Linked DNA regions of Homo sapiens: region 2 is linked to region 1. The links come from fine-mapping of genetic effects on gene expression. Tissue or cell type: tibial nerve. Region 1 holds a variant in brackets; the other region holds the start of a gene. All regions are shown on one strand. Distances are from middle to middle.

Region 1 (5,442 bases):
GCCGTGAGCCATGATCATACCACTGCACTCCAGGCTGGGGGGCAGAGGGAGACCCTGTCTCAAAAAAAAAAAAAAAAAAATTAAGAGTAACAACACACCCTGAACCTGTGCCCAGCACACTGAAACCCAGTGAAAGGGGCTGAGAGAGGATGGAGAGGGGGAGACGAAAAGGACCGATACCCAGAATGGGTCAAAACAGACGAGAAGGCATGGGAAAGGCCAGCACGCTCTTTATAAGAGTAGAACTCAGCCACCCCATTACTGGGTATATACCCAAAGGATTATAAATCATGCTGCTATAAAGACACATGCACACGTATGTTTATTGCAGCACTATTCACAATAGCAAAGACTTGGAACCAACCCAAATGTCCAACAACGATAGACTGGATTAAGAAAATGTGGCACATATACACCATGGAATACTATGCAGCCATAAAAAATGAAGAGCTCATGTCCTTCATAGGGACATGGATGAAACTGGAAACCATCATTCTCAGCAAACTATCGCAAGGACAAAAAACCAAACACCGCATGTTCTCACTCATAGGTGGGAATTGAACAATGAGAACACACGGACACAGGAAGGGGAACATCACACTCCGGGGACTGTTGTGGGGTAGGGGGAGGGGGAGGGATAGCATTAGGAGACATACCTAATGCTAAATGACGAGTTAATAGGTGCAGCACACCAACATGGCACATGTATACATATGTAACAAACCTGCATGTTGTGCACATGTACCCTAAAACAGTATAATAATAATTAAATTATATTAAATTAAAATTTTTTAAAAAAACCTTAATGTTCAATAACATGCGCCCTCTGTAGCGTATGGGATTGAGCGTTACCCAGGAAGCTCCTCCCACCCCGTGTGCTGGCCCTTCCTGCCTGCACTGGCTGATCTGTGTTCTGTACTGTGGTTTTGCCTTTTCCCAGACAGCTTATAAACAGAGCCACGCGGCACGGCACCTCCCGAGCCTGCTTCCTTCCCTCCGTGAGATAAAGTCAAGACTCATCCAGGTTGCCTGCATCTGTAGGTCGCTGCTTTTCATCCACTCATTGGCAGAGGCACATGCGGGTAGTGTGCTGGCTCTGAGTTGGTGGCTGGCATGGACGTCGGCTACCAGCCTCTGCTTCCATCCCTTGAGGGTAGGCGTGCTCTCTTGAAGTCTTGCCCACCCAGACTGATCACATGCGGTTCTGCTTTTCAGGCCCAGTGGCTGCCCTTGAGACATGACCCCTCCCTCCCTGAGTGGGAGACCCAGCTCCTAAGCAGGGCAAGCAGGCCTGGCCCTGGGGTGGCCCGAGGTCCCCTGCACCCATCTCCGAGGTGATCCTGCCTCTGAAGAGCCCTCCACCCCGTGCAGGCCCCTGGGTGTTAGCTGTCCCTGCTGGAACATGAGCTCTTCTAGAGCAGGCACTGTGTGTCTTGCATTCATGGGATGGACACTTTGGCACTTTTGCCTTACCCTCCCACCCCCAGTGAGGGAGGACTGGGCCTTCCTGGAGCAAGGGGCCACACGTCTTCCTCCTGAGGAGCTAGGATCCTAAGGAAAGCTATAGAGCACCATATTGGGTAGGGACAGAGAAACCACCCCTGAGAGAGAGGGAGACCACGGGCAGACACGGAGCCACGAGCACAGGCCCCAGAGCTGGGGTGGACACGGGCCACAGCACTGCCTGTCCCTGGGGAAGCCGCTGGGACTTCCAGGTGGTTTCAGGGGCACTAGCAGCCATGGGTGGTGAGAACTCCCTCCCACCTGTGCCCACGTGGCTTACACCTTCCACTCGGGAGCCGGTGGGACTTGCCTGGGGCCCGAGCACTTGGAGGGGCCACCTCCAGGGATGGCTCCGGTAACCCTCCGTCTCCCTGCAAGGCTGTCACCAGCCTTCTGATGCCCAGCCCTCTCCAGCACAGCCTGGCAGCCACCCTCGAAGCCCACCTCACAGCAGCCAGACCCCTCAGGCTCCAGGCGAGCACTCCAGGCCATGCGGCCTCACTGGGGAGTCTGGGCCCACTTGGGCAGGGGGAGGAGTGCGGAGAGGGCCCTGGGGCACCGCTTCATGCCAGGTGGGACTTGGGAGCTCCTGGCCTCAGAATATTCGGGGCCCCACCACTAGCTCCTTCAGACAGGGTGCGGCCATGTGGGAAGACCTCGCCACAGCAGCCCCATGGCTCCGGACCTGTGGTTCCGAGCGTGCATTGCAGGAGGTGAAAAGCATACCCCACCTCCACCCACCAGATGCCAGAAGCACCCCCACCCAGTGTCCCAGGCACTGTCAAACACCCCAGGGGGCAAGACTGCTCCTGTTAAAAAACCACCGCTTTAGAGGCAGGTAGGGAATTGGTCAATCCAAGATGGATAGCAGTGGCTTTTGCAAACTGTGGATGATCTAGGATTTTTAAATTGTTAAACATACATTTAAAAACACAAATTTTGGCTGGGCGCAGCGCCTCACTCCTGTAATCCCAGCACTTTGGGAGGCTGAGGTGGGCGGATCACCTGAGGTCAGGAGTTCGAGACCAGCCTGGCCAACATGGTGAAACCCCGTCTCTACTAAAAATAGAAAAAATTAGCTGGGTGTGTTGGCAGGTGCCTGTAATCCCAGCTACTTGGGAGGCTGAGGCAGGAGAATCGCTTGAACCCAGGAGGTAAAGGTTGCAGTGAGCCAAGATCGCGCCACTGTACTCCAGCCTAGGTGACAAGGGAGAAACTCTGTTTCAAAAACATAAAAACCAAAAAACCCACAAATTTGGCCAGGTGTGGTGGCTCACACCTATAATCCCAGCACTTTGGGAGGCCGAGGTGGAAGGAGAGCCTGAACCCGAGTTCGAGGCTAGCCTGGGCAACACAGTGACACCCTGTCTCTACAAAAAATAAAGAATGTGCCATTGTGACCATGTTGAAGTACACAATTCAGTGGCATT[G/AAG]TGTATTCCCGATGCTGTGCGTCCACCTCCAGATGAACGCAAAATGGAACCTCTGTCCCCACTAGACGCCAACTCCCCATTCCTCTCCCCCAGTCCCTAACAATCCCCATTCTCCTGTCTGTTTCTTGAATCTGACTACTTGAGGTGCCTCATGCAAGTGGAATTGTACAGTACAAAATGTGTCCTTTGTGACCGGCTCAATTCACGGAGCATAAGGACCTCAGGGTTCATCCCTGTTGTAGCATGTAACAGAATTCCCTTCCTCTTTAAGGCTGGATAATACTCCACGGTACACACACACCACATTTTGTTGATCCGTTCACTTATCGGTGGACGCTCGGCTCGCCTCCACCTTTTGCTATTTGAGTAATGCTGCTATGAACATGGGTGGAGAAATATCTCTTTGAGACTCTGCTTTCAATTCTCTTGGGTATTTTCCCAGAAGTGGAATTCCTGGAACATACGGTTCTATGTAGAATTTTAATTGATTTTAGAGACAAGATATTGCTCTGTCACTCAGGCTGGCGTGGAGTGGTGTGATCGTAGCTCACTGCAGCCTGGAACTCCTGGGCTCAAGCGATCCTCCTGCCTCAGCCTCCTGAGTAGCTGGGACTACAGGTGCCTAGGCCCGCCCAGGCGGGTCTTGAACTCCTGGCTTCAAGCAGTCCTCCTGCTTCACTCTCCCTAACAACTGTATAATTTTTCAAGGACCCATGACACTGTTCCCCACAGAAGCTGCACTATCTTACAGTCCCACCAGCAGTGTAGACGGCTTCCAGGGGCTCCATGTCCTCACCAACACGTGTTGTTTTCTGTTTTTGTTTTTTAAAATCATCATCATCCTAATGGATATCCAAGTCTTTAATATTCACCTTGAATCACCTTCTGGGTATATATGTGATAGGATCTCTGTCCTGCAGCTCAAATTCTTTCTGGGGAAGAGACCTGTGCATGAGAAACAGCTACTACTGGAATAGCCACTGCTTCCCTCCAGTCGTGGGAAACCTCCCACTGCAGGAGGGAAACTCGGCGGCTGAGGGCCGAGGGGCCAGGTGGGCTTTGCCAGGCAAATCTCCCTCGGCAGCTCAGGAAGGAGACCACGCTGGTGTCCAGGGGTCTGGCCCACCCTGAGACCACTCCCCTCCTGGCAGTGACCGCATCAGGATGCCGAGATGCCTGGGGCTCCATCCTGCAGTCACCTGTTAGAAGGACAGGACTGTGTGAGGCCTGAGGACCCAGGAGAGCAGGTGGAGGTCAGGAGGTGACAGTGGCAGGTGGGGGCCAGCCCTGCAGTAAGCTTCCCAGGCAGTGACTGGGCATGGGCTCTCCTGAAGGGGGTGCCTGCCTGGAGATGGCCCCTTCTGGCTGGCCGCCTGGAGGGAGGGTCCTCCAAGGAAGCCCACACAGCCAAGCTGGAGGGGCCACCTGGAAATGCCTCCGTGGGGTGCTAGGGTGCCCCCAGTTGCAAGTCTCTCTCATAACTAGGCTGTTTCTTTCCAGCACCCACCACACAGGGTGATGGGTGTCTTGGGATGTGCTCCTATGTGTTGGTGTCCACCTCCTGGCGGCCCATTTCCCACCTAGACCTTCCTCTGGGGCCTGAGCAGCAGCTCTTGTCCCCAGAGCTCGGGCCCTGCAGGCTCTCCCAGGAGGTGGCGGAGCAGGCAGGCTTTCAGATCGGTCAGCTGCATCTTAATAAAGCTGCTTGTTTTTCTTAGTCCCTTGAGACTTGACTTATTGTTATCAGAAGGGTGATTATTTGCATGGAAGTGGCTGTTTCCGTATTTTGCCTCAGCTCAACGCCCGTGCTCGTAAGCTCTGAATCCGTGGAGGAACAATGCCACCAGCTAGCGGCCACTCTGCGGTGCCCGGGCTTCCTGTGTAGCCCAGGCCTCGCCTGCAGCCCCAGCAGCACTCGGGTGCAGGAATCCCACCAGCCTGAGGCGACAGGGAAGGGGACCTGTGTCCTGCCAGTGACCCCGATTCTGTCCCTTATCACAAAGGCGGGCTGGAGAAGGGCGCCCGGCAGCTCCTGAGACCCAGCCCCGCGGTGAAGGTCCCTACCCTGCCCTGGGAAGACGTACTGCCTCATGGCTGAAGGTCCAAACCACAGCCATGAGCAACTGGGTAGACTGGGGACTGTTTTGTGGCCCTGCTGCTGTCACCATCTTCGTTCTGTGATGATGTCACAAGAAAAAAAGCTTGTCTTGGGGGAGTAATCCGGAAAACATATTCTGAGATAAAGGATGAATTCAGAAACGGAGGGGAAAAAAAAACTATTTGAGAAGAGGGCTGGGCACGGTGGCTCACGCTTGTAATGCCAGCAATTTGGGAGGCTGAGGCCAAAGGATCACTTGAGGCCAAGAGTTCAAGAGGCAGGAGTTCAAGACCAGCCTGGGCAACATAGCAAGACTCATATGTCTCTACAAAATATTAGCAGGGTGTGGTGGCACACGCCTGTAGTCCCAGCTAATCAGGAGGCTGAGTCTGGAGGATGGCTTGAGCCCCG
Region 2 (5,000 bases), 80 kb before region 1:
AGCAATTTCACTCTTATGTACTGAAAGCAGGGACTCAAACATATACTTGTACACTAATGTTCATAGCAGCATTATTCACAATAGCCAAAAGGTGAAAACAACCCAAGTGTCAATCAACAAATGAATAAACAAAATCTGGTCAATGTGTACAAAGGAATATTACACAGCCTTAAAAATGAAGGAAGTTCTGACACATGCTACGATGTGGATGAACCTTGAAAACATGTTGAGTGAAATAATCCAGTCACAAAATGATAAATACTGTATGATTCCACTTATATGAGGTACCTAGAGTAATTAAATTCACAGAGACAGAATATAGAATGATGGTTACCAGGGGTTGCGAGTGGGAGGGGAAGAGGAGTTAATGTTCTGGAGTGAAGAAAAAGTTCTAGAAATAAATAGTGATCACTGGATATACAACAGCATGAATGTACTTAATGCTCCTGAACTGTATACCTAAAAATGGCTAAAATGGTAAATGTTACTATATTTTACCACAATAAAAAAACAGTCATATGTCACTTAACTGTGGGGATACACTCTGAGAAATGTGTCACTAGGCGATTTTGTCATGGAGGGATCCTCATAGAGTAACTTACACAAACTAAGATGGTAGAGCCTACTACACACCTAGGCTGTATGGTAAGGCCTGTTGCTCCTGGGCTACAAACTTGCACAGTGACTCTACTGAACAATGTAGGCAATTGTGACACAGTGGTATTAGTGCACCTAATCATAGCAAAGGTACAGTAAAAGTACAGTGCAAAAAATAAAAAATAGAACTGGTTAGGGCACTTGCCATGAACAGAGGTGCAGGACTGGAAGTTGCTGTGGGTGTGAGTGGTGAGTGAATGTGAAGGCCTAAGACATTATTGTACACTACTTTAGACTTTATAAACACTGTACACTTAGGCTGCAACACACTTATATTAAACATTTTCCTTTTTTTTTGAGATGGAGTCTCACTCTATTGCCCAGGCTGGAGTGCAGTAGCACAATCTCAGCTCACTGCAACCTCCGCCTCCTGGGTTCAAGCGATTCTCCTGCCTCAGCCTCCCAAGTAGCTGGGATTACAGGCACATACCACCACGCCCGGCTAATTTTTTGTATTTTTGGTAGAGACAGGGTTTCACCATGTTGACCAGGCTGGTCTCAAACTCCTGACCTCAAATGAGCTGCCCGCCTTGGGCTCCCAAAATGCTGGGATTACAAGCATGAGCCTCCACAGCGCCTGGCCTAAAAATTTTCTTTCTTCAATAATAAAATAACTATAGCTTACTGGATGACCAGTTACATATGTGGTCCCTAGTTGACCAAAACGTTGTTATGCGGTGCATGACAGTTATACACAGGAGAGGGCCTGAAAGAAAAAAAAAATTTGGACCAAAAAAGGCCTTTTCTGGCTCAGTTGGATTCATTTCTTCCACAGGCCCACTGCCCACTCTGCTGATGGGCGCTGAGCTGTAGACTGAGCTGCCTTGAGGCTGAGGTAAGCTGAATTTGTGGGAACCCCCACCTTTCCCTTGAGGGAGGAAGTTTAAATTATCAGGTCAATTAGGAAAGATACAACCGAAAAAAATCCAAATTTCATTCCCACTTCAAGGAGGCGTTTCCTGGCTCGGTGCCACTTTTATTATTTTTGGCCCAGGCTGCTGAAAGCCCCACAGACCCAGGGAAGGTACAATGTGACCTTTGATTCGCGTTTCAGGGATCAAAGTGAGTGAGTTTGGGTGTAAATGCAGATAACATTTCAGAGAGCTTTCATGAAAGGAGTCACTGGACCAGGGCAGAAAGGGAGCTGGTGTGTTACGTGTGTGTTCCCCTTGAGAAGCGTCACTTTCCGGTGAATCCGGCTGCCTGCCCGTGGCCCCAAGGACTCCTGGCTTGCATCCAGGTCCTTGGCCCACAGGCATCAGATCCTGAGCTGGGGCGCCTGCACCCTCTCCCACCTCTTCTCTAGGCACCGTGAAGCCGAGGAGAGGTGGCGTGGGACGGCTTGTGCAAGTGAGAAGAGCACCACCACTTCATCCTCACCTATCTTGTCCCAGGATCTGGGTGCTGACTCGGCAGGCTTGGGCTGGGCACGGCCCTGTGGGGAGGGCTTGGTAGCCTGCCCTCGCTGTCGTCTCCGGGTCCAGCCTCGGCCTGAGTCGGGAAGCACACAATTATATCCACAACAAGGAGGCCCAGAGGCCCTGCCTGCAGCCCCCAGGTATGCAGGTAGAGGGTCCTCTCGGACTGCCTGCCCCCTGCCTCTGGCGCCCAGCCTGCAGCTACGTCGAACCGGGCCCTAACAAGGTTCCCCGCACTGGCAATGAGTGATGAGAGGCACTCCGCGGGCACGCCGTTCCAGGGCGCTCACGAGGCCCAGCAGCCCCGCTATGCCCACATCCACCCCGACACCTGCAGCCCCCCAGGCTTAGCCCGGCCCCGCAGCAGCCCTCTCGACGCCCAGCAGCACCCCAGTGTCTGGCTGACGCCAGGGCAGTAACGGCGGGCTGAAGCAGCATCGGCCCCTCGGTCTACGCCACAGCCGGGTGCAGATTTCCCGGATCTGAGGGACCGCCGGGCACCGTCCGCTGGGGATCATGAGGGGCAGCTTTGGCCCGACCGTCTCGCGCCTGTACACGCGGCCCCACCTGATCCCGTGGCACTTGGCGCGGCGTGGGAATGGGCGCGCTCTCCCATCACCCACCGCGCGGCACTGCCGCGCCAGCAGGGACCGGGAGAGCCTGCGAGGTAGCGGCCACACGGCATACAGCGCAGGCGCGGCCTGGATGGGAGGAGCGCGTGGAGCGTGCCGGGAGCATGCGCCGGGTCGTACACGGCGGCCGCGCGCACGCTGGGGGCGTGGCTGCGCGATGTAATCGGTCTCTGGACGCTGCGCGGCGCTCCTAGGAGCAGGCGTTCCCGACTCCGGCAAGAGGGTCAGTGTGGAGGCGGGAGCCCGGGCGGCCGGCTTGAACTCCGTGCACGCGGGCCTGGAGCTGCGCCCCTGCGTCTTTTCCCGACTTCTGATCCGCAGAGGGGCACTCGGAGCCCCAGCCTGGGTCGCAGTGCCTTCGGTCTGCGGGCCTCAGTTTCTCGGTCCGCGCCGGGGGTTTGTGGGGGCACCTGGAGACATTTGGGCCGTTCTCGCAGTCTCGGGAAGCCGCGCCCGCTCCTTGCCTGGCCTCACGGCGGCCGATCTCGTTCTCCACTTTCTAGGTGGCGCCTGGACTCTCGCCCTCAGAGGGAGGCCCGTCCCACGGTCTGTGGCTACGGATCCCAGGACCCTCTTCGCGGGCGATTCGCGTAGCCTCAGGTGGGTGGGCTTCTTGTTGCCGTGGGCCTTGTGAGCTCGTATTTCCTGCATGGCGGTTGCTGGGGGGCGGGCGGTGCAGTCGTCTGCACTCAGCTTGCTTTAAGGCTTTGGGCAGGTTTTGTTCTTGGGGCTCCTGGGTCTCCCCAGAGCAGAGAACGGCTCCAGCGTTCCAGGTGCTGCCTTTGGCCTTGTGGGGGCAAACACACATGCGCCGTGGTACCTGCCCCTTTAGGATAGTGCTGTCCAGTCTAGAAGGGCCGAAAGTCTTCTATGCCAGGCAGTGTGGGGAGAAAAGTAGGGGGACCAACAGACTGATAGGCGTGGGAGGGCTAAGGTTCTCAAAATGGTGAGAGTGCGGCCCAGGGTTAGGAAGGCTCAGGCCCAAAGCAGGCCTGGCTGGCTGGTGCAGGGAAGCCTTCTCCCAGACTGCAGGGGACACAGGTGCGCAGGTGAGTGGGCAGGGTAGGGGACTGGGAAGAAGGGAAGGCAGAGATCTGGGTAGCACACTGTGGCTCCCGGGCATGGGGTGTGGTCATTGTGGGCAACCTGGATACCTAACCTTGGCTGGTGGTGGGAGCTGGGCCCTGGATCGGGGTCACTGCTTTTTTAGAGCTCAGTGAGGGACTGGACTGGACTCGACTCACGTCCAGGCCTTAGTATAATCCTGCAGTAAGGTGGGAAGCCAGGGTCATGGGCTGGGCTTTCAGGTGAAGACCCCCCCCCCAGAGGGGGGTCAGACCTGAGGGATTCCAGAGTGTTTGGGTGGTGGAGGTAGGGCCAGTGGCCCTGGCAGGTTCTAGTGCTGCAGGCCACCCTGGGAGGTACCTGGAGGAACTCACCCTGAGGGGGGATGGCCAGCAGATAGGAGATGTGGGATGAAGGTGTGTGCAGGCCTTGTGCTCCCAGTGAGCCGGTGGCGTTTGTGTGTGGGGTGAAGCAGAGAGTTTCCTGGAGGTCGTGAGTGGGCCTCCGTTTGCAGAGAGACTGGGGAGGGGGCTAGATAGAGTTAGGCTGCAGAGTGTAAGAGCCCTACAGGAGGGCTCCTTGCACTGGAATAGAACTGGCTACTGGCTCTGGAGCCTCCTAGGTGACTGCTGCGTGGAGAAGGAGGGGCGGGTCCAGCCATCAGACTGGGACTCCCCAGACCCTGGGCACAAGTGACTGGAGTGGCGGGAGCAGACAGCAAGTGGGGTTCCAGGATTTTACAATGGTGGGGGCTGGGATGCTCTGCTGTGGCTGGGATGGGGACTGTGGAAAGGTGGTGTTTGTGGGTGGGGGTGGCATTGCCTGCAGGTGGCACTCAGTTGTGAGAGGTGAATTTGGAAAGCATGTGGGGTCAGGAGGGAGCAGAGAATAGCAGGCTCACTGCTCTGTCGGGGAAGCAGGTAGGACCTGCTGTGTGCCTGGTGCTGGGATGTAAAAGAGCCTAATGACGACGCGGTCTGTGCGTTGTTCAGAGTTTTTGGGGCGGCTAGAGCCTACTCAGCAGACAAATGTAGTTTATAATCGCGTGCTGTATAGTAGTTAAGCCTCTGGTCTCTCCAGCCAGTTTTTGCTGCTTCCACCACTTATGGGTTAGTGTGTGGCTGCAGACAAGTTACTTCACCACTGTGTGCCTCAAAGACAATGCTAGTACCAACCTCCTGTGGGGGAGGTGGCACAAATGGGGCACTCAGTGAAAGGTTACTACTAT

What was found. PIP is the estimated chance that this variant, and not a neighbour inherited with it, causes the effect.
Region 2: GNB1L starts here. The variant in region 1 is fine-mapped to the expression of GNB1L in tibial nerve (GTEx, PIP above 0.99).

What each region holds. Positions count from the first base shown.
Region 1 is chr22:19,772,397-19,777,838 of GRCh38, reverse strand. It overlaps a transcript of TBX1 not described here. Among named protein-coding and RNA genes, the nearest start is that of TBX1, 14 kb to the right of the region's middle. RefSeq lists a silencer at 799-1,300. The variant G/AAG (reference allele first, on the strand shown) is at 2,934.
Region 2 is chr22:19,852,750-19,857,749 of GRCh38, reverse strand. GNB1L (G protein subunit beta 1 like) reads left to right here and starts at 2,876. Exons shown (of 8, transcript NM_053004.3): 1 at 2,876-2,930; 2 at 3,211-3,307. It overlaps RTL10 (retrotransposon Gag like 10), which reads left to right and starts at 2,876. Exons shown (of 3, transcript NM_024627.6): 1 at 2,876-3,090; 2 at 3,211-3,307. It overlaps LOC124905080 (a long non-coding RNA gene), which reads right to left and starts at 2,778. Exons shown (of 2, transcript XR_007068005.1): 1 at 2,038-2,778. RefSeq lists enhancers at 1,866-2,345, 3,768-4,386.